Regions from separate parts of the Homo sapiens genome. Here region 1 is linked to region 2. The links come from fine-mapping of genetic effects on gene expression. A gene starts in region 2. The other region holds a variant in brackets. All regions are shown on one strand. Distances are between the middles of the regions. Region 1 has its middle 10 kb from the start of CASC23. Region 2 holds the start of NRIP3 (nuclear receptor interacting protein 3).

What was found.
Region 1: its variant is fine-mapped to the expression of NRIP3 in monocytes after LPS (Quach 2016, PIP 0.95).

Annotation. Positions count from the first base shown.
Region 1 is chr11:8,003,521-8,008,893 of GRCh38, reverse strand. No RefSeq gene overlaps it. Among named protein-coding and RNA genes, the nearest start is that of CASC23, 10 kb to the left of the region's middle. The variant T/C (reference allele first, on the strand shown) is at 2,537.
Region 2 is chr11:9,000,910-9,006,282 of GRCh38, reverse strand. It overlaps NRIP3 (nuclear receptor interacting protein 3), which reads left to right and starts at 2,282. Exons shown (of 7, transcript NM_020645.3): 1 at 2,282-2,521. The coding sequence starts at 2,348. It overlaps NRIP3-DT (NRIP3 divergent transcript), which reads right to left and starts at 2,195. Exons shown (of 3, transcript NR_183663.1): 1 at 1,740-2,195. RefSeq lists an enhancer at 2,186-3,105.

The DNA.
Region 1 (5,373 bases), 1.0 Mb after region 2:
TGTCTTTTGGTGCCTTCATGCTGAGGGATAATGGTGCATAGCCAACCACAGCCAACAAAGTAGGGTAGTGGCAAGACAGTCAAGGGCCCAGGCCCTCAGGAAGAGCAGCCCAGACCAACTTTAGTGTTGACCAGGCATGAAAGAAATCTGGAATTGGTGGGTTGGAGGGGGAGCGGGGAGATGATGAATATTAATTGTGGCTGAGGACCAGCTGCCACAGGCGACTATAGTTTATTCCACTAATTCTACTCCTGAAAGTCCCTTTTCTTTTTTTAAGAGCTTGCATACTCGTAAAGAGTCCACACTCTAAAAGAGTCAGTGATAGTGTGGACTTGCTGTGGGGGAGGAGCAGATCTGAGCAGTGTAAGGGGGGTACCCTCTCTAACACTGGGGGTGCCTCCTTGATTTCAGCACTGTGGCGGTGGACAGCCCCACACGCAGGGCTCACATCGCACCTCAATCTCTCTTAATTAGCTAGGGAAGGATGCAGCCCTACTGTAGTTGTAGCCTCTAAATATGAGGAAGTTAGCCAGCCTCCCAGGAGAATTCTTCAGCCAGTGGGGTAACAGGCTAAATTCCCCAGCCTTCCAGTCCCTCAGTGGGAGAATTCTGAGGGGTATGTCACATGGCTCCTTGGAGGTTCCTCAGTGGGACTGAGTCCCTGTTGCTGCAGAAATAACCAGCTTGATACCTTCAGTTGCATTAAGTTCTTCCCATCCTAGTCTCCATTTGCTTTTACTTCTAAGATCATATTATGGGTTAGTTTTGTCCCCCTTAAAAGATATGTTGAAGTCCTGGCTGGGCGCGGTGGCTCATGCCTATAATCCCAGCACTTTGGGAGGCTGAGGCGGGCGGATCACCTGAGGTTGGGAGTTTGAGACCAGCCTGACCAACATGGAGAAACCCCATCCCTACTAAAAACACAAGAAATTAGCCAGGCATGGTGACACATGCCTGTAATCCCAGCTACTCAGGAGGCTGAGCCAGGAGAATCGCTTGAACCCAGGAGGCAGAGGTTGTGGTGAGCTGAGATTGTGCCATTGCACTCCAGCCTGGGCAACAAGAGTGAAACTCCATCTCAAAAAAATAAATAGATAAAATAAAAAAAAATAAAGGCTTTGGGGGCAGTATCAAAGACCGTTCCTTGATCTCAGACTTCTAGCCTCCAAGACTGAAAAAATAGATTTCTGTTGTCTTAAGCCACCAAATTTATGATACAACAGCCCCCTCTTATTCATGGTTTTATCCATGGTTTTGCTTTCTGCAGTTTCAGTTACATGCAGTACAGTACAGTTATTTTGAGAGGCTGGGGGGGGGGGAGAAAGAGAGACACTACATCCACATAACTTTTATTACAGTATATTGTTATAATTGTTCTGTTTTATATTAGTTATTGTTGTTAATGTCTTACTGTGCCTAATTTATAAATTAAACTTTATCATAGGTATGTATGTTTATGAAAAAACACAGTATATATAGAGTTCGATACCATCCATGGCTTCAGGTATCCACTGGGGGTCTTGGAATGTATCCCGCATGGATAAGGGTGAACTGTTGTACTTATTATGGTAACCATAGGAATCAAATGCAGATCACCTCACACGTAAACTATTTTTCCCCAAGTCTTTGCCACATGTTCTGTTGCAAGGGGACCCAAACTATGTCCTCCCTCCAGCTGAATTTTTATATCTAAATCTGGGGCTCCCATTGTCAGCTAACCATTACCTCTGTCTATCCCTTGCACTTCCAATCAACAAAGCAATTTTACTGGGACCATTGGACAGGATCCTATCTTGTACCTCTCACTTCTCTAACCTCCAGAATTTGGCAAGAGTCCCTCACTTTCCTGTCCAGAACTCTAGTACCATGTGGAAAGTCCAGGTTCTCTTATAAGCATCACCCTTTCCCTGGAAGGAAAGCTCCAGGAACCTCATTTTGGTTGTCAGGTCCTGAGCTAGGGTTTCTCCTGGGCAACAGCAGCTCCAGAATTTCTGTATAGAGGGGTTTGCAGATTATAATCTGATTGGAAGGGGAGTGGGCCATAGATTTACTTGAAACTGTGTTATCAAACCAAGTTTAGAAATACTATGTGTTTATTTGGAGTGATTTTGGGGGTGGGGATAGAGGAAGATGGTTTGGTTTCATCACTCTGTGGCTCAAAGGTGGCCAAGGGAAGCAGCTCCAAAAGCTTTGGTCACTTTTTTGGCACCATCCTGACCTCTCCAAAGCAGAAGGTGCTTTCTCTGGGCAGGCCCTCAGAAAACAGCTCAGGAACTAAGGGAATGCCACTGGCAACCTTTGGCCTTTAAGTGGTGTAAGGGTGTCCTCTAGTGGCCATGACTCAGAAAGCCTCTGGCATAGAGCAATGCTCCTGAGACTGGTGGCCTGTTATAGTTGGGACCAACATTGTGGGACAGAGACCATTATAAAATTGATGACCATCATCATGGGACAAAACTTAAGCAAAGTACTGGAAGACCCTAATGAGACAGAAAATACCTTCACAGGACTGACAGACAAGATGGATCAGACAAAC[T/C]ATTGTGGGACAAACATCTAATTCACAGCTTAGATCATCGCCATAGGCAACTGCTTGCCTTCTGGGAGACTTCGCTGGTGATAAGGGGAATAAGGGGGACAAACAAATGGAATTTTGTCAGCTTGCAAGTACTTGCATTACTGAGCATGCATGGATTCCTAGACTCTGCAACGAGAAGCAAGTCAGTGCTGGCAATTAGATTTCTATCTTAAACAACCTGGGTTCTCTTTGAACACTCCTGGAAATGCTGACTATATCTAGTATGTGGGGAAAATGCTAATTTCTTCATCAGATATGCTCAGAACCTGAAGTCACAGTTATAGGCTGCACCAAGTAAACTTTCAGTAAGAACTGATTCCTCGATGTTCTAAGGAGAGTGGAGTGAAGCTTGTTGGGGTTGAGTCTGGCTGTTGTTGGCAGCTCTGTGGGTGCTGGGAGGGGAAATAGTCTATCTGGGATGGATGGGGCAGAACCAGGTAAGACACCAGTGCCCTGCTGAAGCCCTTGTCTCATTACACTGTCCTGTGTCAGGGCAGGGAAGACTCAGTTTACCTGTTCAATCCTTCTTGCCAGAGCAAGAATCCAGCAAGACCCCCACACTTGCTTCCCTTCATGGGTCCAAAGATCTCTGTGGGCCACATTCTTCCCAGCTTTATAGCTTTCTGGTCCTTGCTAGAAACCCTCTGTACTGGCCTCCCAGGACTCTCCTGACCCATGAGACTCTAAATAATTCTCTCTCTTAGGATTCCAGCAGAGGTCAAGGCCTCACTTGCCTTCAAGCAGCCCACAGGCTCAGGAGTGGCCATAGATTGTGGGTGGGAAAAAGGAAGTGCGATCAGGTTCCCACGTCCCTAGAATCTCGTTTACTCTTCAAAAGTTAATTTGATTGAGTTCATTTTCATGAGGGCTCTGGCTTGGGCAATGGAGGAGTTGGGGAGGTTTATGGTATGGGCCTTGGAGGGCAAAAAGTGGAATAATATTGTCTCTGGTCCCTTCTCAGTTTCCCATGCCCTCCGTCCGTAGTGTCTGAATCCTGTGGAAAGGGGGCATGCAGAGCCACAGGTGCATTTTCCTGATGGTCTCCTTCAAACCCAGAAGTTGAGCAGCACGACATGGGCTTCCCAGGACACAAAGTATGACACACAGCAGGGAAGAGAGATTGACCTAAAGAAGCAGAAACTCAGACATTTATGTCTGCACACAGTTGTCGACCATGGAAGATATCTATTAGCACAAAATCAGAAAGAACCCATATGCCCAACACTAAAAAATCACTTAAGTAAATCATAGTTTACCCGTATAACAGGAACCTATAAAACTATTTAAAATAAGGTTTTTGAAGATTTAATGACCTGGATAATAATCATTCTAAAATGTTTAGTTTAAAAAAAGCCAAAATAGAAAATTCAAAACACTGTTTTAAAAAAAGTTGTTTGTAGAGAAAAGGGATTGGCACAACATGTTAACAATAATGATCGTTGAGGGCAAATTTGAATTATTTCTATTTTTTTCTTTCTCTTTTTTCTATATTTTCCAATCCTTAAAGATAAATGTTACTCATAACAATAAAAATATCATTGTTCAAAAAAGGAGACTGAGATTTTTGTGAGCTGGTTTGCCCTCCCTGTCTGGCCCTAATAGAGAGCACACCAAAGTCATTGTAAGGTCATACATATCCCTTGTCCCTTACAGAGGTGGTCAGAATATAGTGCAGTCCTCCAGCAGACCAATTTAGCAACAGGAACAGAGGGATCCTGTGCCCACCCCTGCAGAGAGCAAAAAGACAGTCTCACTGTGTGTGCTTCACCTGATCCAGATGGAAGCACAGATCCTGGGATCCCTCCTGAGCTGCCGCTAAGAGGAAAGGGGCCTCAATCCCTCCCTCCGCCCACCAGCTGGAGATAGACACAGCCTCCAAAACTGCCTGTTTCCCCTTCTCCTCTACCCCCCAGTTATCATAAAGTGTATATTTCTTCATTCAATGCTAACATAATATTTGGCAAATAATAGAAGCCCAGTGAATGCTAAATGAATGAATGATGCCTATGGAGCAAATGCTGTTAGTGTACCTGGGGTCAGCGGGCCAGTGAGATGCTTTAGGGACTCATTGCCACCTGAGATTAATCTGCTTGCTGGGTCAGGGGGCCCACAGAGACAGAGTTCTTACACAGCCAGTATGCACAGAGAGTCAGTGTTCCTGGGGATGATGTGTTCCCTCGGGGTTGCCATGTTCCCTTCTGAGTCAAGTGATCAAGGTGCCCTTGAGGTTGGGGTTCCATAGGATCAGTGCATCCATGGGTTTGGTGTCAGGTTGTCCACTGGATAAAGATTCCCCTAAGGTAAAAATGCTCATGATCTCAGTGTAAATTGAAGCCCATCTGAGAAGGTACAGGAACATACAATTTATGCCTATGAAGCTAATGTTCTCTGTCAAAGCAACCATCAAAACCAAGTTCACTACCACTGGGTAACTGGTGCTGAACAGATTCTCAGGGGAATAGAGAGTAAGTGAGAAATGGTGGGGTGGTGGGCCCATGGCTTAGTAGGGCAGGGTGGTTGGCATGGTATGTGGGACTGGTTGAAAGGATCAGTTAATTTAGGTGGCTCTGGTCAGTAGAATGATGTGATATAATTTTAGGAATAAAATGGATTAGTAATTTGAGGGTTCTAGTCAGGAAAATGATCGGCTAGGGAGTTCTTGGGAAGCTGTTTGAAGGGCTGGGTAGAAAGAGATTTGGGTAAAATTGTCGACAGCCTCAAAAAGGGAAATTACTGTGGTAGGGTGGGCAGGCAGCTGGGGGCGGGGAACTTTGAAACGATACCTTAGTTATAGGTGT
Region 2 (5,373 bases):
AGAGGCACCTCTCCTAGACGGACAAGGCAAAGCTGACTTTCACTGTTCCCTGGGTGATCTGCACCTGGAGGAGTGATCAGGCAGGGATCCAGGTGATGGGACAGAAGGGGCCAGGGCAGCCACTGTTGTTCACTGCTGGAAGTGTGCCAGGGGACTGGAAGGTGAACAGCAATCCCACCTGTCTCCTAGAGACTCTGTCCTCCGTGTGTAGGGGAAAGTAGGGGATGGGCACACAGGGAGGAATCCAGCCCTGGGGCTTCCTTGAAGCCAAGTGAGCAGCCTTCTGTATTTGTTTTCCCACAAACAGTCTTTGAAACTGGGGCAAGTGTTGAAGGCAGAACAGAGTAAAAGAAGCAGCTTCATGAGGCCAAACCCAGTCTCTCCAGGTCTAGGTAGTCCAGCACAGGTTCTGGGAGTAAATGCCAGCTTTACCACTTGATTTCTTTGGTACGACCTTAACTTTTTGCCATCCTTTCACTAGTATTTGAGAACCCTCTGCATATTAGGGCATCAATGCTAAGCAAAAAATGGGTTCAGTCACCTTCCTGGAGGTTCCAATCAGTGGAGGAGACAAATATTAATCCAACAACCAGTACCCCCCTACCCCTACCCCCACAGAAAGTGTCAAATGCCCAAGAGATAGATAGTATATAATTAGAGAGACTTCACTCTCTCTGGAAGGTCAGAGAAGGCTTTCCTAAAGAAATGATAATGGAGCTGAGGTCTGGAAGAAGCATAGGAGTTTCCTGAAGAGGGTAGGAGGGGGCACTGCACACAGAGGGAACAGGACAGTCAAAGGCAGGCCATTTGGCAACAGGTGACTGGAAGGAACTGGAAGAAGGCCCATGAGGCTGAAGTACAGAGTGAATATGCAGGGTCTAGGCAGACCATGCAAGAATGTGGGTTTCTCCTAAGAGCAATAGGAAGCCTTTTGAGGTGCTCTTAGCAGGGAAGTGAGATGATCACACTTATCGTTTGAGAAGATTACTCTGGCAGCACAGTGAACAACGTATTGGAATGGAACCAAGGAGCATTCAGGAGGCCAGACAGAAGGTATCAGGTATTTGCCTGTAAAATGGGGGTGATGAGAATACTATCTTACAAGCTGTTGCCAGGATCCAATGAGATACTGCATTTTAAGTGTCTAGTCTAGTACCTGGCACATAGTAAAGGCTCAGTAAGCGTCGATATTGTTACTTTTATCATTGGTTCTTTGCAGAGTGCACATATTTCTTATCCAGGTCTGCTCCTGCGTGATGGGGTGGAGGGAGTAGTTGTGGTTTCCAGAGTGAAAACGTGATTTGTGTCAAATCACAATGTCGAGACCAGAATCCAGGATGCCTGAAGGCCCGATTAGAATGGCTTAAAAGTATGGATTATTCAGGAAGAAAAACGGGTTCCAATCGCTCCTACTAAGGACGCTGGAGGGATGGTGAACGATCCTTTAGATGGTAAGCCCTAGCACTTATTGAGAAAAACAGGTGCTTCTTTGGTCGGAGAGCAGGTGTAGGGCTCGCAGCCGCGTGCGCTCCCGCGGAGGCGGGGGACCCTCGCCACTCCCCCGCCCCACGCCCACCCGCGGGCTTCCGACTGCACCTGCTCCCCCGGCTCGGAAACGCGGGCCGGGTGCCGGGCTGCAGGCAGAGGGTGCCCGGGGGAGGAGGTCCCGAAAGCCTCCTCCACACGCCTGCACCGGCTGCCCCCTCCCCAGTCACGTGGCCCGGTGGGTGGGGACCGACCTGAAGTTGGAGAAATCCGGAGCGCTCCCAACCTCGGAGGGAGTCGCCAGTCCTCCGGGCCCGGGCGGTGGACCCTGGAGCCCCGGCTGGCGGCGTGGAGGTGCGTTTCTGAGAAGCCGAGCAGCGGCGCGGGCGGCGGGACTCGAGGCATGGCCCGGCTGTCGGTGATCCCCGGGTCGGCCACGGCGTGGACAGGTGAGCAGGTACCCGCGGCCAGCGGCAGAGATGGCCGGGGCTGCCAGGGCATCGGGCCCCAGAGCCCACGCCAGTCCAGGGGATGCGGGGCCCCCACGCAGGAGGGGGCGGTTGGGTGAAAAGGCCGCGGTGGATTCTCGGACTGCCGGGTCAGTCCCCACCAGCGCCGCCGCCTCCTCGCCGGCTTTGCCACCGGGTGAGCAGGGGACGCGGGACGCGGGACGCGGGACGCGAGGGAGCCGCGCGGGGCGTGGACTCTGTGCCGGCCCCGCCCCCCGCGCGCGCACTGGCTGCTCCCCGCGACGTCACGCTCGGCTATAAAAGGCGCGGCTCGGGGCCCTTGCGGCGCTGGAGGAGCTCGAGGCTGAGGCTGCCGGGGGGCTGTGGGCTACCGGGCCGCCGGCGCCTCAGCGATGTTTTACTCAGGGCTCCTCACTGAGGGCGGCCGCAAGGAGACCGACATGCGGGAGGCGGCGTCACTGCGACAGCAGCGCCGGATGAAGCAGGCGGTGCAGTTCATCCACAAGGACTCCGCCGACCTGCTGCCCCTGGACGGCCTCAAGAAGCTGGGCTCGTCCAAGGACATGGTGAGCCCCCGCCGCCGTTCTCGCCCCGGCCCCGGCGGCTTCGCGCCCGCCGTTTTCCGAGGCCCGGCCGTTGCGGCTTTCACTGAGTCACGGCCCGGCCCGCCGCTGCCCTTGGCTCGCGGTCGCTGCGTCGCGGATTCCTCCCCTTCCAGTACCCCTGCTGCGGTTTCGGTGGGGATTCCGTCGTAGCTTTTCTAGCTTGCGCTCCCCTCGGCTGTGCCTCCTCCCTGGATGTCTCTTCTCCAGTAGAAAGAAGAGGTCCTGCCCTGCCCTCTTGCCCTCGGGTCTTCTTTCTTTTTCCTTATTCTTAATACCGAATTTTGTTCACGGGGCTTGTGCCTCCTATGCTGTGTGGCTGTTCCTATGACCCAGACAGAGGTGATTCCTAATGGCTTTCCGTGAGGGGGAAAGAAGTGGAAAGAGGGTTTTTTGACAGTTGCCAGATCCAGAGGACTTCTGTTGAATCCATTGTCCCCCTATGCAAAACCCACTTCTCTAGTTTTGGTCCTAACTTTGACCTTCCATCCTGAGTGGGGAGAGAGAAAAGGGGCCAAATGTGAAGGTTTCCTGAACCCCCAACATCTCTTCATCATTCTCCTCTTCCAGCCCCGCCCCCAAGGAGTGGGTAGAGGGAGGAAGCCAGGCTGCTGCATCTCACCGACCAGCTAATGTGTGCATCTGGAGCTGGGGTGGGTGCAGTCTTTTTTTCTAGCACAGTTGTTCCTGGCATTAAGTAGAAGCACCTCAGGACAGGGGGCCTGGGGTCAAAGATGGTACTGTCCTCTTTCTATAGAATGGGATGGATGGCTAAGGGTTACCAATATAAAGAACTGTATTTGTCATCCCTCAGCCACTGTAGTGGTCCTGGGCCAAGTTTATGTTTAACTTTGTAGTTTTATCTGGAGTTTTCTTGTAGTTTGATTGTTTTCTTGAATTTCACAATCGCTTTATTCATTTGGGTGGTAATATGTGAAACACTAATTAAATGTCTTTTAACAAATGAAATAGGTGCTCTGCATAATTTTTCTAGTATTTTTTATTTTAAGCTTTTGAAATATTTAATTTTGGATGTGGTTGTCGGCCCTAGTTCACTGAAATTGCCATTTCTGGCCCCAGGAGGGCAGAGCTTCTGCATCCATTTCCTTTTTTTTTTTTTTTTTTTTTTAATTTAACAGCTCTAATGATACACAGGTACATTATATTATACACAGTATAATATAATATACAAAAATTTTTCTCCTCCCTGCCATTAGTTACTTCTGTGCAGAGTTTGTCTACTTCAGTTATCTTGCTCTGTTTTTTTTACAAGTTGTGTTTTTTTGTTTTGTTTTGCTTTTTGCACAACCCACAGGATAGTTTATCTGATTTATGCTAACCCAGAGTGATAAGTGATTGAAATGTGCTCCTGCAAAAGAGATAACTCTCTTTTCCCTTCTTTCACTTTAAAGCAATCTCGATTCATTTAACAAATCAGGTTCGAGAAGTATTCTTTCCTTCAGGCCAAATAATCCTATCCTAGTTCCTAGAATGCTCAGCAATCAATAAAGAAGGAAGTATTATATTAAGAGAAGAATTAAAATACAGAGTTTTTAAATGCTGGATTTGGTTGTCCCTCGTTGTCGAGGAGTTTCCTAGCCCTGAGAGCTACCTGAACTTCCTTCTGCCTAGGATTTCTTATACTACTTCATGCTGTGTAAGAATTCCATCCGCTTTTCTGACTCTAGTCTGTCTCAGTTGAGTCACAAAGGGCTGATAGCATACAGCACAGGCAGCAGGCTGCAAAGAGGAAGGAGCCTCAAGAAGCAGGATATTGCCTTGAGTATGACACATACACATGACAGTTGACTGTAAGGCTCTGAATCATGGTTCACGCTTTCTGTGCCCCACCGTCATGGAGTTGATTTCCCTCTCTCACTGTTTTCACACCTATAATGTACAAGTGATTGCACAGAACAGCCAGGTTACAGAAACCAAGGCAGACCGAGGTAGGGCTAGGAGAGCCGCAAGCGCTGGGGTGAGGCAGCATGCTTAAACTCTCTTGGAACTGTTGTTGCAGCCTTAGTACAATCTTAGAAGTGACCTTAGAAGTACATTATTATTCTTTTACTTTATAAATACATGTGGGATAGACCAGTGTTGACTCAATTTTCTCTCACTGCAAGGGAAATTTGGAGGATGTTAAAATTAATTGAATAGTTCTTACTTGGAGTAGTTTATAGTATAATCTCGATAGAAGGAGTCCAAGAAAAGGGAGAGGATAGCATCAGAGGGAGATAAGGAAGAGAGAGGAGAAATTAGTTGTTATTGACTTTTGGGTTTGTGAAGATTGTAGGTTGTTTTTCCTCATACCAGCAACCTATATTTGAATATACCGCTGGGATTTCTGAATTATCTACCTCTTACTATGCTGTTTCTGTAATGTTCACTGCTTGATACCAGCCTGCCAGCTCTTTTAGGACTGGCAGAAGGCAACCATAGGAAATCAAAGGGGGTCATGTTCTCTTGGCCCCAGGAAAGTGCCTTTGCCTATTCCTGTGTATCTGGAGTTGGCTGATACAAAGTCTTCTGTGGAAATTATATTTTTGTCTGCCCCTTTTGCTTTTATCCTTTTATCTTGTATTGTTCATTCTGTATTAGATTAAGAACTAAAACCAGAGATATGAGTGAGTAATATTATATTTGATTTTTTTTTTAAGAGACGGGTTCTCACTCTATTGCCCAGGCTGGAATGCAGCTGCAGTCACATCTTACTGCAGCCTCGACCTCGCAGGCTCAAGAGATCCTCCCACCTCAACCTCCTGAGTAGCTAGGATTACAGGTGCACACCACAACACCAATCTAACTTTTGTATT